Regions from separate parts of the Homo sapiens genome. Here all the other regions are linked to region 1. The links come from fine-mapping of genetic effects on gene expression. A gene starts in region 1. Each other region holds a variant in brackets. All regions are shown on one strand. Distances are from middle to middle. Region 1 holds the start of FXYD5 (FXYD domain containing ion transport regulator 5). Region 2 overlaps LOC105372379 (a long non-coding RNA gene). Region 3 has its middle 23 kb from the start of FXYD5.

The links. PIP is the estimated chance that this variant, and not a neighbour inherited with it, causes the effect.
Region 2: its variant is fine-mapped to the expression of FXYD5 in platelets (CEDAR, PIP 0.95).
Region 3: its variant is fine-mapped to the expression of FXYD5 in B cells (Schmiedel 2018, PIP 0.95).

The regions. Positions count from the first base shown.
Region 1 is chr19:35,151,691-35,157,347 of GRCh38, forward strand. It overlaps FXYD5 (FXYD domain containing ion transport regulator 5), which reads left to right and starts at 3,045. Exons shown (of 9, transcript NM_014164.6): 1 at 3,045-3,119; 2 at 3,861-3,921. The coding sequence starts at 3,861. It overlaps FXYD7 (FXYD domain containing ion transport regulator 7), which reads left to right. Exons shown (of 6, transcript NM_022006.2): 6 at 2,204-2,612. The coding sequence ends at 2,226. RefSeq lists enhancers at 512-1,063, 2,013-2,877, 3,816-3,985.
Region 2 is chr19:35,207,343-35,212,999 of GRCh38, forward strand. All of the region lies in intron 2 of LOC105372379 (a long non-coding RNA gene), which reads left to right. Among named protein-coding and RNA genes, the nearest start is that of FAM187B, 19 kb to the right of the region's middle. RefSeq lists an enhancer at 4,335-5,146. The variant G/GA (reference allele first, on the strand shown) is at 2,615.
Region 3 is chr19:35,175,108-35,180,764 of GRCh38, forward strand. No RefSeq gene overlaps it. Among named protein-coding and RNA genes, the nearest start is that of FXYD5, 23 kb to the left of the region's middle. RefSeq lists a silencer at 744-900. The variant G/A (reference allele first, on the strand shown) is at 3,061.

The DNA.
Region 1 (5,657 bases):
TGTGGTTCTGGGAGAGTTTTAGGTGGGGCAGGGAAGGGAACCCTCAGAAGGGAAGTCGCGGGGATGGACTGGACGCAGGGGGCGGAGGGGGGGTGGTGCCTGCAGATATCACAGGACAATTCCCTAGGAAGCTGAGGAAATTCCGCAGATGAAAGATGCTAAACCTGGCTGGGCGCGGTGGCTCATGCCTGTAATTCCAACACTTTGGGAGGCTGAGGCAGGCAGATCACCTGAGGTCAGGAGATCGAGATCAGCCCGGCCAACATGGTGAAACACCGTCTCTGCTAAAAATGCAAAAATTAGCCGGGCATGGTGGTGCGCACCTGTAATCCCAGCTACTCAGGAGGCTGAGGCAAGAGAATCACCTGAACCTGGGAGGTGGAGGTTGCAATGAGCTGAGGTTGTGCCACTCCACTCCAGCCTGGGTGATAGAGTGAGACTGTCAAAAAAAAAAAAAAAAAAAAAGAGGAAGGAAGAAATGAAGGAAGGAAGGGAGGGAGGGAGGGAAAAGAAAGATGATGCTAAACCGTGGGGAGGCTGTGGGATGTGACATGTCCCAGAGTCCACAGAGATTCCCAGAAACAAATGCTCAAGCCTATAAAAGCCAGGACAAGCTGATTTGCCAGGAGAGGAAGACACAGGCCTGTGAAGAGAAGGGCCCCATGTGGGAGGAGCTCTGTCAATCAGGAGGGAGAGAGAGGGAGCACTGAGGAAGACGGGGAGAGGCTTTCCAGACTTGATCGTTCAGCCAGGCAGATCCAGGATGAAATAGCCGAGGAAGCGGGACAGAGGGAGGGAGGGAAGGTTTCTGAATAGTTGCATCAAAATAACAAAAAGAGAGATGAATAGAATGCAGATTTTAGAATTCACATTGGAAAAGAACATATGGGATGCAGGGAATGTGAGGATGGAGAAGAAAGCTGGGAAGAACAGGAGGGGAGAGAGTGGAGAGGACGGAGGTGTTGGGGAGAATGTGGGAAGGAGGAGCCCAGGAAGGAAGGGGAGGAGGATGGGAGGAGGAGGGCGTGGAGGGTGGAGGAGGGAGAATGGGTGTAAGCATGGAAAGTGTAAAGGGAGAGCGAGAGGGATGCAGGGCAAGCATGTCAACGAAAGACTGATCTCTTTGAGGCTGTTAATTTTAATTATGTAAAAATAACTTGACCTGTTTTTAGTGGAAATGCAGCCTTTCTGGAGACTTGTAAAAGAACAGAAATGGGAATTTCTGTGTCTCTTATAAAGTTCTTATAACTAAAAAAAAAAAAAAAAAAAAAAAAAATGCGGGAGGGGGACACGGGTTATTCAATGGTTGAGAAGTATTTGGTGTGGAATTTGTTTCACGTTCCTTTTTTTTTTTTTTTTTTTTTTTTTTTTTGAGACAGAGTCTTGCTGTGTCCTCTGTTGCCCAGGCTGGAGTGCAGTGGCACGATCTCAGCTTATTACAACACTGCAACCTCTGCGTCCTGGGTTCAAGCGATTCTCCTGCCTCAGCCTCCCAAATAGCTGGGACTACAGGCACACACCACCACACCCGGCTAATTTTTATATCTTTAGCAGAGATGGTGGTTCACCATTTTGGCCAGGCTGGTCTCAAACTCCTGACCTCAAACGATCCGCCATCCTCGGCCTCCCAAAGTGCTTGGATTACAGGCGTGAGCCACAGCGCTTGGCCTGTTTCATGTTTATTTAATGAGTTTTAAAACATGAACAAGGCACTTATGGATGCGTGGGGCAGCATGGGGGTTGGCCTTGTCACCTGGGGCACAGCTGAAGACTTTGCACAGGTTTCTGGTCTATCCTAGGTGAATGATGGTCTGCAGCGGGTGGGGAATGGGGGACTTCCCGTTGTATCCAAATGTTCAGGACAGGGAGTGTAGGAAAGGAGTGAGGGTGTAGGAGGAGATTGCAAATGGGAAGGGAGATGGGGACTCCCTTTCTGGCAGGCGGATAGCCCCAAAAGCCCAGGTTGGGTCTGGGGTCGCCAGCCCCGTAGCAGGTGTTTCTCTCCATGACAGCAGCCAGGAGGTGTCCCCAAGGGAACAAGACATTAGAGTGTGGGAGGCAAGACAGCTCCTCAGTGTTAGCTCTGGGGTGACAGTCCCTGGGGTCTGGCTTCCATGGTGCCGGGGAATGGAGAGCCAACGAGCTGTGGGGAGGGAGGCAGTTTCCACCTTTCTAGTGGCTCACGCACCCCCTCTCTCCCCAGCCCCTGGTGGCGGCGGCGTGTAACACCTTCCCGAGGAAACTCCGCTGCCGACCCTGCCTGAGCGCGGGAGCCTGAGGACCGGGTGGAGGCGGTGGGGACCCAGCCGCGCGCCGGGAGCGCTCCCCGGAATGAGCCGCCCCACCCACCCCAAGGCTGGAGCCGCTGCACCCTGCTGTCCCTCTCCAGGCCTTGGCAATGACGATCCCCCAAAGAGCCCGTCTGCACCCCAGACCCAGGGCCTCAGGCCTCCAGCTCCTGGGATCCGGGAGTCCATCCCGGCCCAGCACCCCCAGCATCCCCGTGTATGGCCCCCCTGCACCTCCTTGTCTCATCCCCGAAGATCCGTCCCCCTGGCCCCTCAGTGTCCATGTCTTGAGCTTAATAAATGTGCATTTGGTTTTTTCCTCTGTTCTGTCTGTGTGTTCTCATCTGTGGGGCACGGTGTGGGTAGGGGTGCAGAACTGAACCTGGGGTAGCTCTCCCCTGCGTGCCCGGAGTCGCCCCCTCTTCATTCTCCTCCCCCAGTGCCCCGAGATGCCCCCCTTCAATCCCTTCTCCTTCCTCAACACCTCCGGATTTGTCCTTTCCCTTCCTCCAGCGACCCCAGAATAGAGCCCTCCCGTTTCTCCCCCTGCTCTCTCAGAGGCGTCCACTCACCCTAGACCTGCCTGCCCCATCCCCGTTCCCACCCTCTCCCACCACTATGCCCTCACCCCTGCCCCCCGTCGCCCTCAGCGATTCCCCCTCCTGCTCCCACCCCGGGCTCTGAAGCCAGGAAACCCAAGAGGAAATGACTGAGCCCGTCTGGGTCCCCGCCCGCTCGCGCTCCCCTGGCCACACCCTCCGCCTGGACGCAGCAGCCACCGCCGCGTCCCTCTCTCCACGAGGCTGCCGGCTTAGGACCCCCAGCTCCGACGTAAGTCCCTCTCGTGCGCCACCTCCATCCGCTGCCCCTCTGCCCACGGGCCGGGCTCAGGTGGGTAGGGGTTTGACCCCTTCCGCTCCTCTCCGCCCCCCATCCACGCCCACATCTCTCTGCCTCCTCTCCTGGGCTACAGTGGGCCGCTCTGCCTCGCTCCCGCCCGCCTGCCTCAGTCTCCCCAGCTCTCTGCCACCCCCCTCGGACCAGTGCCTCTTAGGTCTCTCCAGCGCGCCATCCCTGCAAGGCGGCCCCTGACACCAACTCACTTTTTCCTCTGAGCGCGGGAGGCGTTACTCACTCTTCCTCCTTCCCCTCCTCGCCGACTCCCGGGCTCTGGGCCCCTGGGGGAGGGAAGAGGCCTCCTATCTACTCCTCTGCCCCAGTCCCCTCCTTGCGTCAGTCCCAGTGAGGGATAAGCGCCTGGCGGAAGGCGCAGGGAGGTGTTTCTCTGCTTCAGGAGTGCCCGCCGGCCCTTGCAGCTGCTGGAAGACCCATTTATCTCATGCTTCTTGTTTTCTTTGGGGACCTGCAGGGGAAGGAAGCAGGGTGACGGTTTGGTATCCCCACCTAAGACCCTCCCCTTTCCCCTGAGGCCAGCCGTCAGCCCCTGGCAGGGGGTCTTGGAAGCCAGAGGTTTTTGCTCAGGGCAGGGAAAGGGCTGCAGGATCCCCGGGGGCTGCCGGAGGTCGGTCTCACTGACATCATGGCTGACCCCAGCATCGCCTGGTCCCACAGATGTCGCCCTCTGGTCGCCTGTGTCTTCTCACCATCGTTGGCCTGATTCTCCCCACCAGAGGTAAGACCCATCTCTGGCCTCCACCCTGCCCCAGAGCCCCCAGCCAGGCCAGCCCCACGTGTGCTGCGGGGTGGGTGGTTGGCCCGTGTGAACGTTGTCCTGCCCTGTCACCCTCCCGCTGAGCCGGCACCAGGAAGTGGGGATCCCTATGGCGGGGCGACGTTACACCCTCTTTGGACACCTCAGACCCGGGTGGCTGCTTCCAGTGAGTCTGGCCAGGGCCTGTCCTGCTGAGCATCCTCCAATTTCACCTCCAAGAAGAACTCACTGAGTTTCATTTGGCGGGGAGATTGGTGTCGGTTTTCTACTCAGCAGCCAGGAAACCTAGGCTCCCAGAGTCCCCAGGCATTACACAGTTAGGCAAAGCTGTTGAGCTGGGGTTAGTCCAAAGAGTTGGCAACATCTCAGCCTTGCCTGGAAAGTGTCTCCTGAAAGATGGGAACCACAGGGGGGTATTGATCGTTCTTTCTGTGTGGCAGGTGTGGTGTGTGTTAGGTCAGTTAGGCTTTGCCTCTGACAGTCAGTCACACCTGTTGTCTTGCCCATTTTACTGATGAGGAAACTGAGGCTCAGCGAAGGGAAGTGCCCTGTGTCAGAGGAGAATGGGTGGAGGAGCTGAGAAAACAACTGTCCTGCCTGCCCCCAGAACCCAGGGTGCATGCCCCACTGAAGGCGCCCTCATTTCTCCTTCATAAAATGATTTTCATATACTCGTTCAGTCATTTGACAAATATTTATTGAGCACCTACTATGTGCTAGATATTCTGTGCACTGGGGAAACAGCACTGAATAAAACAAGAGGTCACACTCTAGTGGAGAGAGACAAGTTAGTAAATTATATCGTGTGCTAGGAGGTGATACGTGCTTGCAGAAAAGTAGAGGTAATGAGGATTGTTTAAACTGGGTGGTCAGGGAGGGCCTCACTGAGGAGGTGACATTTGGACCAACAAACACTTGGAGGAAATGAGGGAATGAGCTTTGCAGGTGTCTGGGGGCTGAGTGTTGTCTGGTGTGTTTTAAGAATAGCAGGCAGGTGGGGTGGCTGGGTTGGGATGAGAAGGGGCAGAGTGGGATGACGAGAGGACAGAGAAGTGATGGGACCAGATGGAGGAGGACTTACGGGCCACGTGAGGGCTTTGCTTTTATGTGGAGTGAAGTGCAGCCAGGGCAGGGCTCTGAACCAGGCGGGCCCCGACCTGACTCAGGTGGTCCCAGGCTCCCTCTGGCTGCAGGTTGGAACAGACTGTGGGGGCGGAGACAGGAGCAGGGAGCCCAAGAAGGAGGCTGCTGGGATGTCCAGGCTGGAGGGTACAGAGGCAGGACCAGGATGGGGGCAGTGGAGTTATCCAGCACTGACCACATGGTAAGCCGTGTGGGAGACCCTTTCCCTGCTCTGTGTCATTTCACCCTATCTACAGCCCTGTGAAGTAGATTCAGTTATTATCCCTGCTTTGCAGATGAAGCAACTGAGGCTCAGAGAAAGGACTTCACTTGTTCCAGGTCACACAGCAAGAAAGTTGTTGGGGGCAGGATTTGAAACCAGGGCCCAGGCTCACCCTAGCACCTGGGCTCACTAGACTAAACTGACTTTCCCATCCCACAGGGATGGGCGGGGAGGGGGACTAGAAGAAGGGTTCCCAGGCATTGGCATAGCTGAAAACACTTTCAGAATTATGGATTGATGCAGCCAAAGCTGAGTGATTCCACCAGCAGACAGGACCCCTAAGGTTTCACCA
Region 2 (5,657 bases), 56 kb after region 1:
CAGCCTGGGTGACAGAGTGAGACTTCATCTCAAAAGAAAAAGAAAAGTACTGTAGGAGGCCAGGTGTGGTGGCTCACACCTGTAATCCCAGCATTTTGGGAGGCCAAGGCAGGAGGATCGCTTGAGCCCAGGAGTTCGAGACCAGCCTGAGCAACATAGCAAGACCCCATCTCCAAAAAAATTTTAAAAAGATACACAAAATTTGCCAGGCGTGGCGGTGTGTGCCTGTATTCCTGGCTACTAAGGAAGCTGAGGAGGGAGAATCACCTGAACCTGGGAGATCAAGGCTGCAGTGAGTCATAATCACACCACTGCACTCCAGCCTGTGTGACACAGCGAGATCCTATCTCAAAAAAAGAAAAAAATAATAATGTAAGAGAAATAAACTTTTTCTTTTCCTCGCAGAGAGAATGTGGCAGTGTGAGGAGGCATTTGCTGGCTTAAGCTGGGCTCTCAAACTCTTAGTCTAGAGCAGAGTTCTAACAGCATCACGTGTTTTTGCTTTCTCTTTCATCCACGTTGAAGAAGAGGGGGTAGTAAAAATATTCCTCTGGTTTAACAAAAAATTCACAAATATTTATCCTTTTCAGAATCTACATGCAATTTAAGTATTAGTCCCAGAATCACAGATGCTGGAATGTTAAAGTTTCTTTGACAAGACATACTGATGATCTCTGAAGTCCCTGCGGCCTGCAAAGAATATTTGCAAACAGAGTTTTATGATGCTGAGGATGATTCTGAAGCCACAGAGAAAGACATCATTTTTCTTCTTTTCTTTCTGCAATTTCTTTCATTAGCACTTCGGAGCACCTATAGTCGCCATGAGTTGAAATCTCATGAGTTAGTAGTAAGAGCAGAATCAGAGAGGCTAAACACTGAAAATACAGAAAGGAAATGGGTAGAGTAGGATTTTAGCAAGAGGAAGTATACGGTTGTGATGCTTTGCACCTATAGGAAATGATGGCTGGGGCTGTGGCAGCCACGTTACCACCGTGAGGGATGACATTGCCCACATGCTGAGGAGCCTGAGTCTATAAGAACATCATTCAACTGATGCATTGACCCCTGGAGAACCTCCCCGCCTTTGGGGGACCAGCAGTTCTGTAAAATAATACGTGTCCTTATTGCTTTTTTTTTTTGAGATGGAGTCTGGCTCTGTCCCCCAGGCGGGAGTGCAGTGGCGCGATCTCGGCTCACTGCAAGATCCACCTCCTGAGTTCACGCCATTCTCCTGCCTCAGCCTCCCGAGTAGCTGGGACTACAGGCGACCGCCACCATGCCTAGTTATTTTTTTGGATTTTTAGTAGAGACGGGGTTTCACCGTGTTAGCCAGGATGATCTCAATCTCCTGAGTTCACGCCATTCTCCTGCCTCAGCCTCCCGAGTAGCTGGGACTACAGGCGACCGCCACCATGCCTAGTTATTTTTTTGGATTTTTAGTAGAGACGGGGTTTCACCGTGTTAGCCAGGATGATCTCAATCTCCTGACCTCGCGATCTGCCTGCCTCGGCCTCCCAAAGTGCTGGGATTACAGGCACGAGCCACTGTGCCTGGCATCCTTATTGTTTTAAGATGTTTGGAATTTATTCTTCTCTTACTTGCAGCCAACAGCATCCTACATGAGGCAGCCAGGGTAAGTGGTCCACATACAATGGGTGAACAAGTGCTTATCCAGGAATTGAAAGAGCCTGGCTCATTCAGTGCTAGGACCAGAGCCCTCAGTGGACATTGTCCCACCTTTCAGCACTGAGGATGCCTCCTCCCCTCCAAGCCAGTCATTGCTGTATGTGATCATGTTAATTAGGTATCCATATTCCACAGGAGGGAGCAACGAGGTTTTCTTTTTTTTTTTTAAGATGGAGTCTTGCTCTGTTGCCCAGGCTGGAGTAAAGTGGTGCCATCTCAGCTCACTACAACCTCCTGGTTCCAGCAATTCTCCTGCCTCAGCCTCCCAGGTAGTTAAGATTACAGGTGCCCACTACCACATTGGGCTAAGTTTTGTATTTTTAGTAGAGATGGGGTTTCACTATGTTGGCCAGGCTGGTCTCAAACTCCTGACCTCAAGCTATCCGCCCACCTTGGCCTCCCAAAGTGCTGGGATTACAGGCATGAGCCACCACGCCTGGCCGCAATGAGGTATTTTTTTGTTTTTTTGTTTTTGTTTTTGTTTTTTTTCAATTCTAGCCGCCAATCACAAAATTTAACTAAGGTCCCTCCCAGCACACACCTGTCATCCATCCTGAAAATTTAAAGTAAAGGTATAAAAATATCAAAACCATGATTGCCTTTGGGGATGGAGTGGAGGTGGGGATTATCTGGGAAGGGGCATAAGGGGATTTTGCAGGGGTCACGGAGATGTTCTTTATCTTAACAGGGGCTTGTAGTCTAAAGCAGAAGCGTATACTTATTACATAAGTGCATTCATTGGTCAAAACTCAGCAAATGGAGATGGGAACAGTGGCTCATGCCTGTAATCTCAGCTACTGAGGAGGCTGATGCATGGGGATCACTTGAGGCCAGGAGGTCAAGACCAGTCTGTGCAACACAGAAAGACCTTATCTCTTTTAAAAAAAAAATTGTTTTAATTCCCCAGGCATAGAACTCACCCTGTGGA[G/GA]AAAAAAAAAAAAAATTAGCCAGGCGTGGTGGCATATTTCTGTAGTACCAGTTACTTTCAAGGCTGAGGCAGAAGGATCGCTTGAGCCCAGGAGGTCAAGGCTGCAGTAAACTATGATCACACCACTGCACTCCAGTCTGGGGTACAGAGTGGGAGCGCATCTCTAAATAATAATGACAATACTAAGAAATTCAGCAAATGGATGTTTCATATGTGTGCATTTCATTGCATGCAAATTTATAAAATCTCAAAGATAACTGCAAACATTGAACTCCAGTTGGTGATATGAATCCTGAAATGTTTAAGGGTAAAGAGTACTGATGTCTGCTTTAAAATTCTTTAACCTTCTTTAAAAATACATTTTTAAAAAATCAGATGACTTGATAGAGGAATGGACTGATAGATATGTAATAAAGTAAATACAGAAAAATGTTAACAATTGTAGAATCTAGATGATGGGGCCAGGTGCGGTGGCTCACGCCTGTAATCCCAGCACTTTGGGAAGCTGAGGCAGGTGGATCGATCACCTGAGGTCAGGAGTTTGAGACCAGCCTGGCCAACATGGTGAAACACCATCTCTACCAAAAATACAAAAATTAGCCAGGCGTGACAGCGCATGCTTGTAATCCCAGCTACTCAGGAGAATCACTTGAACCCGGGAGGCAGAGGTTGCAGTGATCTGAGATCATATCACTGCACTCCAGCCCGGGTGACAGAGTGAGACTCCGTGTCAAAAAATAAAATAAAATAAAATAAAATAAAATAAAAGTGATGATGATCATAGTTATGAACAACAGTGAGAGTTCACACACTGCCTGTACTGTGGGCAAAGCCCGTTCTCAGTGCTTCGTGTGAATGAATTTGTTCACTCCTCACTACAACCTTCTGAGATAGATACTGTTATTCTCATTCACAGATGTGGACCCTGAGACCAGGGAGGTTGCGTGGCATCATTACATCAGAAGGGGAGTGGTCTGAATCCACTCCTCCCCTTCCAGGGCAGGAAGTCAACAGAGAAGGGCTCTGTGGTAACGTTGACAATCACAAATCAGTGGCATAAACATCTCCTTAAGACATGCAGAGGCAGCTGGGCGTGGTGGCCCACGCCTGTAATCCCACCATGTGGGAGGCCAACGTGGGAGGATCACTTGAGGTTAGGAGTTTGAGACCAGCCTGGGCCACATAGTGAGACCCTGTCTCTACAAAAAAAAAAAAATTAAAAATTAGGTGGGCACGGTGGCTCATGCCTGTAATCCCAGCACTTTGGGAGGCTGAGGCAGGTGGATCACCTGAGGTCAGGAGTTCGAGACCAGCCTGGACAACGTGGTGAAATCCTGTCTTTATTAAAAATACAAAAATTAACCAGGCATGGTGGCAGGTACCTGTAATCCCAGTTACTCAGGAAGCTGAGACAGGAGAATCGCTTGAACCATGGGAGACAGAGATTGCAGTGAGCCGAGATCGCGCCAGTGCACTCCAGCCTGGACGACAAGAGCGAAACTCTGTCTCAATGAAAAAATAAATAAATAAATAAAATTAAAAATTAGCAGGGCATGGTGGTGCATGCCTGTAGTCCTAGCTACTCAGGAGGCTGAGGTGGGAGGATTGTTTGAGCCCAGGAGTTCAAGGCTTCAGTGAGCTATGATTGCACAACTGCACTCCAGCCTGGGCAACAGAACAAGACCCTGTCTCTGAAAAAAAAAAAAAAATGTGGAAATTGTGAGAGACACATGACAACAGAAATGTGACTACTGCTTGCCTCTGGAGGAAGGAAGAGGTGGTGGAGGAGAGATAGGTGGCTGGACACTGTGGCAACACCAGCATACCAGGGGCTGGGAGTGGGGGGCAGTCAGGACATGAGGCCAGAAGCTGTGAATCTTGGAATCTGCAGAGTGCCCCTTATGAGACCCCAAGCATTCATGTAAGCGTCCATGCCCCCACTGATGATATCTGGGCAGAGAGGCAATAAAATCAGAGTTGTTGATCAAGATTTGGAGGCTGCGGTTGGAGGCCGGACATCCTGCCTGCAGGGCAGGCTTCAGCTTGGAAGCTTGCGGCCCAGAACAGTCCCCGTGGGCACACCCAGGCAGAGGGTTTTGCTAGGTGTCTGACCCAGCTTCCAAAGCCAGGGTCTAATAACAACAGCGCCACCAACAACAGGAAACATTTGTGACGCACATGCTGCCAAAGCACTGTTCTAAGCACTCCTTACAGTTTAATCCTCCCAACAATAAGAATGAGGTAGGTACCAGTGCTAACCCCATTTTACATAGGGGGAAACTTAGGCACAGAGAGGAGACCCCATGAAAGGCAATGGGGACACCTCCAGGAACCTCCCACCAAAAAAGATCACTGCAGAGTAAGGACAAATCGAACATCAGATTTCCTCAAGGGTGGGCACTTTCTCGATGCATTTCTGGTGCCCTCTTTTGGATTTCAGCCTCAGTGGCCACAACACCACGGGTGTCAGTGACAGGAGCAAACCAAATGCACTGGGGACTCAGCTGGGAGGAGCCGCCCTGGCATTCCCACCATGTCCGTGAAATGGGGGGAATCGTGGTATGTACTTGAGAATCAACAGAGGCTGGGCGAGGAAGACTTGGGATACTTGTGAGCCCATTCTAACATCAGCAATTGCTAATATCATGTTTATTGCCTTGAATAAAAGAGATGAAGAAATAAAGGAAAAAGAGGAAAGGAAGGGGGAAAGGAATGAAGAAAGGAGAGACAAGAAATAAAGCATTTTAGGCCGGGCCTGGGGGCTCACACCTGTAATCTCAGTACTTGGGAAGACTGAGGTGGGCATATCACTTGAGGTCAGGAGTTCAAGACCAGCCTGGCCAACATGGCAAAACCCCATCTCTACTAAAAATACAAAAACTAGGCCGGGCACGGTGTCTCACGCCTATAATCCCAGCACTTTGGGAGGCCGAGGCAGGCGGATCACGAGGTCAGGAGATCGAGACCATCCTGGCTAACACAATGAAACTCCACCTCTACTGAAAAAAAAATACGAAAAAAGTTAGCCGGGCGTGGTGGCATG
Region 3 (5,657 bases), 23 kb after region 1:
TAGTAAAAAGACTAGAAACAACCCCAATGTCCATCAGCACAAGTGAGTGGACTACAAACTGTGGAAGGAAGAAAGACTGAGCTACACAACACATGAATGAATCTCAAAAGCATTGTCTTGAGTGAAAGAAACCACACACGAAAGAGCACAGACTGTGTAATTCCATTTATATGAAGTTCTGAAATATGCAAAACTGATTAACAGTGATAAAAATCAGAAGAGTAGTGGCCTCTACTATGTCAGCAGGAGGTGGGGAGAGACTGCAAAGGGGCATGAAAGAACTTTCTGGAAGGATTGAAATGTTCTGTGCCCTGATGACAGTGGTGCAGATTACATGTCCATATATTGATCAGAATGATCAAATTGTACGTTTAAGTTTTGAGGGCTCGGTGCCGTGGCTCATGCCTGTAATCACAACACTTTGAGAGGCCAAGGCAGGTGGATCACTTGAGGTTGGAGTTCGAGACCAGCCTGGCCAACATGGTGAAACCCCGTCTCTACTAAAAATACAAAAATTAGCCAGGCATGGTGGTGCATGCCTGTAATCCCAGCTCCTCAGAAGGCTGAAGCAGGAGAGTCGCCTGAACGTGGGAGGCGGAGGTTGCAGTGAGCCGAGATCGCGCCACTGGACTCCAGCCTGGGTGATGGAGCAAGACCCTGTCTCAAAGGAAAAAAAAAAAAAAGATTTGTACACTTTACTATGTGTAAGTGATATTTGGATGTGTGACCCCTCCAAATCTCATGTTGAAATGTGATCCCCGATGATGGAGGGGGGCCTGGTGGGAGGTGATTGGGTCATGGGGGTTGATCCCTCATGAATGGCTTGGTGTCCTCCCCATGGTCATGCGTGAGTTCTTGCCCTCTTAGCTCACGTGACAGCTGGTTGCTTAAAGAGCCTGGCACCTCCCCCTCTCTCTGTCTTACTCCTGCTCTTGCCATGGGACACGCCTGCTATCCCTTCACTTCCTGCTATGAGTAAAAGATTCCTGAGGTCTCTTCACCAAAAGCCAAGCAGATGCTGGTGCTGTGCTTGTACAGCCTGAAGAACCATGAGCCAAAGAATTCTCTTTTCCTTATAAATTACTGTCTCAAGTATTCTTTTATGGCAATGCAAAATGAACTAACACAGTAAATTATAACTCAATACAAAACAAGAACATTGAAAACAAATAGGCAGTTCTGTCCTGGGTGGTGATGATTTTCTGATCCCTGGATCTCAGACAGAGCAGCCAGATGCTGAAGCTGACGTGTACAATGGGGGCTCCTGATTAGGGTGGAGGGAGAAGCTCCTTGGGCAAGTCAGTCTGCTCATGTTGTGGAATCATTTGCAGTCTTCACTTAGAGCGCACTCCACCAGCCTTTCCAAAGAGCTTGTCAACCTCTAATTCCTTATGCCAAGCCAGACCAATTTTGCTTAAAATTGACAGTCACAAATAATCTCAAAATCTCGTGGCTTACAACAAAGGTTTGTTTCTCGCTCTCACTACATGTCCCTCACGGTTCAGCTAGGAGCTAGGATGGGACCCAAGATGATGGGGAAGCCTGGGCTGGGCGCAGTGGCTCACACCTGTAATCCCAGCACTTTGGGAGGCCGAGGCAGGCAGATCGCTTGATCTCAGGAGTTTGAGACCAACCTGGCCAATATGGTGAAACCTTGTCTCTACAAAAAATACAAAAATTAGGCCAAGTGCAGTGGCTTACACCTGTAATCCCAGCACTTTGGGAGGCCGAGGCAGGCGGATTACCTGAGGTCAGGAGTTTGAGACCAGCCTGGCCAACATGTCAAAACCCCATCTCTACTAAAAATAGAAAGATTAGCCAGGCATGGCGGTGCATGCCTGTAATCCCAGCTACTCAGGAGGCTGAGGCAGGAGAATCACTTGAACCTGAGAGGCGGAGGTTGCAGTGAGCCGAGATCAAGCCACTGCACTCCAGCCTGGGTGACAGAGTGACAGAGTGACACTCCGTCTCAAAAACTAAATAAAAATAAGCTGGGCATGGTGGCTTGCGCCTGTGGTCCCAGCTATTTGAGGGGTGAGGTGGGGGGATCGCTTGAGCCCAAGAGATGGAGGTTGCAGTGAGCTGAGATCACGCCACTGCACTCCAGAGTGAGACCCTGTCTAAAAGAAAAGAAAATAAAAGAAAAGAAATGTTTCTGGTTATCATAGCAGGCAGAAGGCAGAACAAGGAACAAGGTGAGACACACACTGGCTCTTATAGCCTCTGTCAGGAAGGGACACACCTCATTTCTGCTCACATTGTCATTATCGAAAGCAAATCACACGGGCACATTTGAGTTCAACAGCACAGAACATTACAATCTTCTTATAGGAAGGTATATTAATCCGTTTTCATGCTGCTGATAAAGACATATCTGAGATTGGGAAACTTACAAAAGAAAGAACTTTATTGGATTTACAGTTCCACGTGGCTGGGGAGGCCTCAATCATGGCAGAAGGTGAAAGGCACGTCTCACATGGTGGCAGACAAGAGAAGAGAGCTTGTGCAGGGAAACTCCCCTTTTTAAAACCCTCAGACCTCATGAGACTCATTCACCATCACAAGACCAGCAAGAGAAAGACCTGCCCTTATGATTCAACCACCTTCCACTGGGCCCCTCCCACAATATGTGAAAATTCAAGATAAGATTTGGGTGGGGGCACAGCCAAACCACATCAGAAGGGAACTGGGTATTGATGGGCAGTAATATTGTTTACTGCAAAGGACATTTATTATCTCACATAGCAAGAGTTCTAGAGGCAGAAACTGTATTCAGCTTCAGGAGACAGCCAGAAACAACGACTTAAACAGGTTATTTATTCCTCTCTCACATAGCAGAACTCTGAAGTACATAGTGCAAGGCTGGGAAAGAGGATCCCTAATATCATAAGGGACCAGACTTGCTGCTCTGCCACCCTAAGCATGTGGCCTGAAGCCTCAAGATCACAAAATAGCTGCAGAAGCCTCAGCCATCATGCCACATTCCAGGAAAAAAATCAAGAAGGGGAAAAAAAAGTGAGAAAGGAAAGGCACCACTAGGTGATTCAGCTCCTTTTAAAG[G/A]GACTTCCCAAGACTCCCTCCCAAAGATTTCTACTTCCTTCGGATTGCTACCTCTAATTGCAAAGGACACAGAAATGTGGTCTTTTAGCTGAGTCCGTGACACCCCAAATACCATCAAGGAAAATAATTGCCCTCAGGAATTTGTTGATTAGGATGCTGAGAAGGATGGGGAGCTGCCACCAAGTCAGGAGATGGAGCCTCAAGTCATTTTTACTCCAATGTAAAAGGAAAAGATAACTGTTAAGACTGGGGGTTGGCCAGGCACAGTGGCTCACACCTGTAATCTCAACACTTTGGGAGGCCAAGGCAGGTGGATCACCTGAGGTCAGGAGTTCGAAACCAGCCTGGCCAACAGGGTGAAATCCCATCTCTACTAAAAATACAAAAATTAGCCAGGCATGTGACACATGCCTGTAATCCCAGCTACTCGGGAGGCTGAGGCAAGAGAATCACTTGAACCTAGGAGGCGGAGGTTGCAGTGAGCCAAGATTGCACCATTGCACTCCAGCCTGGGTGACAAGAGTGAGACGTCATCTCAAAAAAAAAAAAAAAACTGGTCGTTTTTGAAACTTCCAGAGGACAGCAGCACTGATTCTCAGACTTGATAGAGACTTCCAGACATCACTTCAACAGCGCCTCCAATGCTCTCCAATGCTACCCAATCCCTTTCTGGCAAAAGACATCTTTTTCTGTGGCATCATGGTCTGAAGTGAAGCCTCCTCCTCCTCCACCCTTACATCAGGGGAGATATCTTGCCAGGAGCTAATGGAGTGGATGTTGTAATTCAGCTAGCCTCCTGAGTACAATTCTGTCAAGGTTCTTGTTTTGAAATTGAGGCCAGATCACATTAACTGGAAGGAATCTGCCTTTTCTCATCTGACACTAGATTGTGCTTTTCTTGGAGGTGTTGAGGATGACCTCCAATGATTGCTTCGGTAAAGTCTGTTGGCTTCTCAAGAAGTTATTGAGTCAAGGACTCCAGCTGCTGATGGTGGGAGGTTAAACAGGGTTTGAAACATCGCCTGAGGTGGCTTTGTAATGTATCACCTTGGCCAGGTTAAACTACACTTCCCAGAATCTTTTTCCCTAGATGCCTGTGTTTTCTGGTTAGGGTGAACCACAAGAGACATTCTTGTCAGGGATCTGCTGGGTAGAGGTGAAGCCACGGACATTTCGCAGCTTATACCAGTTGTCACTTATCAGACAGCTCATCTCATTGGCATAAGGCAGCAACCAGGGCTGCAACTGTTTCACCTTCCGCTGGATCCTCCTTCAGCTTCCCCAGTTGTTGGGCCAGACATGTGTGCTCAGCCCCGTGATGAAGGACCATGACTCTAGCAAGACACCCACAGCACCAAGGTCATAGACAACAAGAATTAGCATGGGGCTGGGTGCAGTGGCTCATGCCTGTAATTCCAGCACTCTGGGAGGCCGAGGCGGGTGGATCACTTGAGGTCAGGAGTTCGAGACCAGCCTGGTCAACATGGTGAAACTCCATCTTTACTAAAAATACAAAAATTACCCAGGCGTGATGTTGCATGCCTGCAATCCCAGCTACTCGGGAGGCTGAGGCAAGAGAATCTCTTCAACCTGGGAAGCAGAGGTTGCAGTGAGCAGAGATCACACCACTGCACTCCAGCCTGGTCGACCGAGTGAAACTCTGTCTCAAAAAGAAAAACAAAAAGAAAGAAAGAAAGAAAAAAAAGAAGAGAAAAGAAAAAGAAAAAGAATTAACATAGGATTCAGTCCATCCTTGTGGACTCCAGCTTGTGCTTGTGGGTTCTAACTTGTTCCGTGCTCTCCCCAATCTTACCTCAATCTTCCCTTCCTGACTTCCTGCACCTGTGGGTTTCAAGTTCCAGCATCAAGACAACAGCCCTACAAAGAGAGCTTCACTAGCAACTACAATTGTTGAAGGTCAAATTCGTGTAGCAAACTGTGTGTGTGTACGCCCACATATGTATTAAAGGTTCAGCTTTGCTGATACAGAATTTGGTACTAAGAGTGGTTCCAGAAGGCCAGAATCTTAACAATGAGATCTGGTTTTTCTTTCTCTTTTTTTTTTTTTTTTGAGATGGAGTCTCACTCTGTCACCCAGGCTGGAGTGTGGTGGCGTGATCTTGGTTTACTGCAAGTTCCGCCTCCCGGGTTCACGCCATTCTCCTGCCTCAGCCTCCCCAGCAGCTGGGACTACAGGCGCCTGCCACAACGCCCAGCTAATTTTATTGTACTTTTAGTAGAGACGGGGTTTCACCGTATTAGCCAAGATGGTCTCAATCTCTTGACCTTGTGATCCACCTGCCTCGGCCTTCCAAAGTGCTGGGATTACAGGCGTGAGCCACCGCGCCCGGCCGAGATCTGGTTTTTCTAGAATTGGTTCTCTAATTAAATTGAAAGCCATTAATGACCTTGTTTTCAGTAATGAAGGGTACACTGATAGGTCATAGCATGGAGTGGCAAGGCAGTCACTCAGACCATCACCAGTAGCTTCCTATATTAGGTTTCTATAGAAGGAAAGGCTCTGGGTGACTGAGTATTTGCTTCCACAGAACAGTTTAGTGAAAATAAGAAGTGTAATGGGGTTGGCTCATTGCTGC